2 separate regions of the Homo sapiens genome follow, and region 2 is linked to region 1. The links come from fine-mapping of genetic effects on gene expression. A gene starts in region 1. The other region holds a variant in brackets. All regions are shown on one strand. Distances are from middle to middle. Region 1 holds the start of FNIP1 (folliculin interacting protein 1). Region 2 overlaps FNIP1 (folliculin interacting protein 1).

Region 1 (2,500 bases):
AATTTTACCTTGAATTCAGGTTTATATCAAATCTTACAATTCTGAAAAGTTACTCTGCCAGCAACAGGTACTACAATGAAAAATTAACAAAGCCTGTAACACTACAAAATGCTCTACTAACATTTTCAATTTTTAAGACTCCTTTTCAGTAACAATTCGAGGAGGAAGAATCTACAGCCAATTCCAAGGCCAGATTTCATTCAATTTGGTCTTCCTTCGGCAGTAACCCTAAACTCAAGTTTCACATTTCTCCTTCGATAACATTAAGGTCGCTCGGTCCGGTTACTGCACACCTCCAATTTTAGCGTCCAAGAAACCTGAAAGAACGGCACGTTGCCTACTCGCTCCTCCAGCCTTCTCTCAACTCAGAAGCTTGGCCAAACGTGCCGCTCTCTCCACAACGCCAACGGAGCTGGAACGCAGCGCCCGGAGGACAACTGGTCACGGGGAGGAGGGGAGAACTTCGCGGCCCGGAGTACGGCGGCTGAGGTCCAATCCAGCCCGCGCCCAACTCTACTCGGTGCCAGGAAGGCGTGTGGACCCAAAGTCTCAGGCCGCGGTGCTAGGTCCGGAGGAGCAGAGTCGCGCGTGGCTGGGGGCAGGTCGTAAACAAACCGACGGGAGGAGGGGGAAGGGGCAACGGCGAGGCGGGTGGGGTAAAATAAAAGGTAGGACCTCGCTCCAACCCTTCGGCGCTAGCCCGCAGCCGGCTCCACCCCACCGAGGACCAGATGCTGCTCTCGGCGCGGCGCTTCCGCTCGGGTCGGAACACCGAAGGCCCCAACACCCCTGGAGCCCGGAGCCCACAAGGCCATCGGCTCCGCGACCCCCGCCCCACAGCGCCCTACCTGAACCCGCAATCTGGGTCCCGGGCGTCGCGGCCGGGCGCGCCCAGCCCGGTCCTCTTGCTGAAGAGCTTCTGGAACAGCGTAGGGGCCATGCTAGCCACGGCCAGGCAGGGGTCGCTCCGCTGGGCGCTTGCTAGGCCCCTGCTCCTACAGCCGCCCCGCCACCCCCATGGGCGCCTCAGTCATATGACAGAAATTAGTCACTTCAAACGGCCACGGCGCGCGGGGCGGGGCGCGAGGCAAGGCCGGCACTCATTGGCTGGAGGGGGGCCGCATCACGTGGCGGCGCGCGGAGCAAGGGGCAAGGTGGGGGCGTGGGGCGGAGCTGCCTCCCATAGGCTCACTGGCGGGTCCCGTCACGTGGCAGGGGCGGGGCGTGAGCCGAGAGGACAGGACTGGAAGGTGGCTAGGGATGTGTAGCGGGAGAAGGGTCAGTCTCGATCTTCCCCTGTGAAGCTGTCAGCGACCATCAGAGGGTACGCCGGGGTGGCGCGGGGACGATGCCAGGAGCCTTGGAGTGCAGAAGGCTTCGACTCCCCGCACCCACAGAGTTGCGTAGGGAACCACGGGCAACCGACTCTTCCTTGTCAGCCCCTCCCTAGCTTCTGCGGCTTCACACCTCCATTCCGCGCCGGGCAGAGTCTGGCGGCTCCTGGAGCACGGAAGGCCCACAAGCGTACCCGTGGGGCCGCGGCCAAGGCTGGACTTTGAGCCCAGGACCCCAGGACCGCCCTTAGAAGGCTGCGCCGGCCCGCGAGAGGTCTGGGATCTGGACAGCGCGGGGGCTGGCTCACAGGGACTGGTGAAGGAAACTGCCGGGACCCCTGCCACAGCCATGGCTCCCCGCAAAGACGACCTCGAGCAGGCACTGCGGGCAGTTTGTACTAGCGCCTAGAACCCTGACACCGGGAATTAGTCTCTTGGAAGAGCTAGCGATTGGAGGCTCAGGAGTTAGGCTGTTTCCTTGTTAACCAACAAAATCAGGTGAAACCAACGAAGTCAGGAAGCCTAAAGACATATATGTACAGATATCTAACCCTTTACGCTAATTATTTAGATTTTTAATAAATCTATCTTAATGTTTAGGTATGAAGACGGGAGGAACTGTGGAATTTTAGTCAAGTTACAGGGAAGAAACGCTTTCTAAAAAAAGAAAAACATTGCTCACATGTGACCTCACAGTCTTATTTAACCCATGGAACCAAAATATATCAGAGTTTGTATCAAACTAATCTTATAAATTTTCAGCAACCCCATCCATTCACTCACTCCCCCTCCAGGATGAGGAAGCTCGTACAATGGGATGTAATCCTCAGAGAAATTTAGGAAATAACTTGTATATGGTTGGAAGGCTGGATAAAAATACTTTGGGCAGGCGTGGTAGCTCACGTCTGTAATCGCAACACTGCAAGGCCGAGGCAGGCAGATCGCTTTAGCTCTGTAGTTCGAAACCAGCTTGGGCAACAGTAAGACCCTGTCTCTACAAAAAAAAAAAAAAAAAAAAAATTTTAATTAGCCAGGTGTGGCCGGGCGCTGTGGCTCACGCCTGTTATCCCAGCACTTTGGGAGGCCGAGGCGAGTGGATCACCTGAGGTCACGAGTTCAAGACCAGCCTGACCAGCATGGTGAAACCCCGTCTCCAAAAAATTAGC
Region 2 (3,025 bases), 100 kb before region 1:
TAATAATCTTCCGAGGCCTGGCAGGAATAAAATTATACAATATATGGGTTAATACAACTGACTGAGAGAGATACAGCCTATGCCAAACTAAAGAAAGCTTGCCTGGCCTACAGGCCTAAAGGTTCAAATGTTTATTAAAAAAACACAGTAGTCACATAAAATGTCTGCTGGCTGGCTGGAATTCCATCACCTACAATTTACCTGCTTTCAAAAACTGTGTTCAACATTGAGAAAACAGAAAACCACTTATCTTGAGCTTAATATGGGCTTCTTTTTCCTTAACTGTAGAACACTTACTGAAATATCAAATCAATGGTTAGGATATGTATCCTAGGCAGGCCTAAACCATTAACACTTGGTTTAAGCAACTTTGTATAATTTACCTCCTAAATCATAAAGAAGATACCTAAACATTTATATTAAAACAATACAACTCAAAGAAATTGTCATCTCAAGCAAATAATCCTGATGTTAAAATTATTTCCATCTTACATTCATAAAATCATCAAATTTTGTGTTTTCACAGAACTTCTAGAAACATACAAACAGGGCTATATAAATTGAGAAGTTATGAAGCCAAAGTAGACTGTACATCAGGAAGCTCATAAAAGTTGCTCTAAATTCCCTCTGCAAATGTATTTGATTTCTCCTACACTTCATCTATAAAAAACATGCATATAATGCTTTTATTTAATCATGAATGGCACCCAAAATGTGATAATCTCAACCTTTATGGTTTAAGTATGAAGAAATGAAATTATGAATAACTTTGCATATAATTCAGATATAAAGAGTGAAGATGCCAGTAAACTAAAAAAAACCCACACTGATTACCGTATCACTAGAGTTTCAGTGTCCCAAAATGAAAAAGCTTTAGAGATTGATTTCAAAACAATGTAAATATGCTTAACACTACTGAACTGTACACCTAAAAAATGATTTATAAAGCTAAATCTAACGTTATAGATATTTTTACAATAAAAATATTAAATTAAAATTATTTGTTAGCATGCTCCATATAATAAATGCCTAAAATTAATGTTAAAATAAAATTAATATATGGCAGAAATATCATCTCAAATACAGTTTTTGCCTGTACAAATTATTTCTAATACCAAAAAATAATATAAGGTGAAATTAAATTCTCTCTGTTTTTCTCTACATTTCCCCTAACCACTGAGTGTACTGTACAGAACAGTAAGATATATTTAACTAGCTTTTCATATCTTTTATCCTAAACATT[A/G]TGATGCATAAACCAAATGAATGAGTAGACATTATTCTCTTTCTCAATAATTGAGTCAAGTAAATGATTATTATACAATAGTCATAAACTTCTTCAATTTAAATCTACCACTCTTTAGCTCAGTTTTAAAAATGTTTTATATATTTTAAAAGTTTTAAAATTTTATATATATGTATGGCATGCCTACAATTTCATCATAGCAATCCTGCAGTTACACAAACTAAAACAGCCTTTCACTCCAAGATGTGATGGCCCATTTAAACAAACAACAATCTAGAAGATCCCTGCCCCAGTAAGAGACCACACAGTTGTCAATAAAAAAAATGTAGTTTTTCTAAAAGTAAGGTACATAGACTACTGGTAATAATAAAATTTACACAGTGGTACGTAGTGTACACAATGTGGTATACAAATACACATTTATTATTATTTTTGTGACGGGGTCTCACTATGTTGCCCAGGCTAGTCTCGAACTCCTGAGCTCAAGCAATCTAACCACCTTGGCCTCCCAAAGTACTGGGATTACAGGCACATGCCAACACGCCTGGCCCAGATACATATTTTTAATTTTAGTTACTATAAATTTATTTTTATAGCTAGTTTTATTATGGTAAAGCATATTGTTTCCCTATCTAGGGTAATGAAGTTTCATGTTGAAATAGATTTATTTAGGTATAAAAGATGGTCAAATTTAAAGAGAAACACTAAATTTAAAAAGTATACATGATATATAAATTTGGCAAAATTGTTAAGATATGATGTAAGTGACTTAAGTTGGGGAAGCACTGCTGTAGGTTATGTTTACCATAGGCCAGGCTCAGTGGCTCATGCCTGTAATCCCAGCACTTTGGGAGGCCAAGGTGGGCGGATCATTTGAGGTCAGGAGTTTGAGAACAGCCTGGCCAACATGGTGAAACCCCGTCTCTACTAAAAATAAAAAAAAAATTAGCCAAGCATGGTGGCACGCGTCTGTAATCCCAGCTACTGAGGAGGCTGAGGCAGGAGAATTGCTTGAACCCAGGAGGCAGAGGTTGCAGTGAGGCAAGATCACGCCACTGCACTCCAGCCTGGGTGACAGAGCAAGACTCCACCTCAAAAAAAAAAAAAAAAAAAAAGAAAGAAAAAGAAAAGAAAAGAATGGTGCCACTAATGTCAGGCATTCTGCTAAGTACCTTACACACACAATTTCATTTGATCCTTATAACAATCTATTAGATTATTACTAAATTGAATTTACCTATTTTATACTAGAAAACTAGGGGTCAAAAACGCTAATGCACTTGCCCAAGATCACCAGAGGTAGTAAATGACAGAGCCAGGGTTAAAATCCACGTCTGTCTGACAGATTCTAGAGTCTTAGTTTTCACTCCCTATGCTATTCTATCTCTCTAGTCTAAAGGAGGAAAGATTGAGAAAATGAAGTAGACCTAAACCGAACCTCTTGTCGAGGGAGACATATCAGTCACTTAGTATACTAATTCCCAACATAACATCATTTGTAGTATGTATGTCACATAGTTAGAAGACAGCTACAGCAGTTGTTGGGGCTTCAGGTACAAGCTTTGTTGAGCCAGAAAACCCTAGCGGAAGGACTATTCACTGTGCCATATCTAGAGGAAGGATCAAGCAACAAAGCCATTTAGAATATCAAGTGCATGTTCCTTATATCCATATATCCTTGTATCTCATGTATTCAAGAATATCTGATTACTACCACTGGTTAAATAACACTTAACAGTCCCTACATCTAGGATCCCAAGAGAGAACAAAGCATACTTTTGC

Evidence for each region. PIP is the estimated chance that this variant, and not a neighbour inherited with it, causes the effect.
Region 2: its variant is the best candidate, but not a certain one, in a credible set for the expression of FNIP1 in whole blood (TOPMed, PIP 0.65).

Annotation. Positions count from the first base shown.
Region 1 is chr5:131,795,982-131,798,481 of GRCh38, forward strand. FNIP1 (folliculin interacting protein 1) reads right to left here and starts at 1,036. Exons shown (of 18, transcript NM_133372.3): 1 at 849-1,036. The coding sequence starts at 940. RefSeq lists silencers at 650-929, 980-1,239.
Region 2 is chr5:131,695,632-131,698,656 of GRCh38, forward strand. All of the region lies in intron 11 of FNIP1 (folliculin interacting protein 1), which reads right to left. Among named protein-coding and RNA genes, the nearest start is that of RAPGEF6, 62 kb to the left of the region's middle. The variant A/G (reference allele first, on the strand shown) is at 1,244.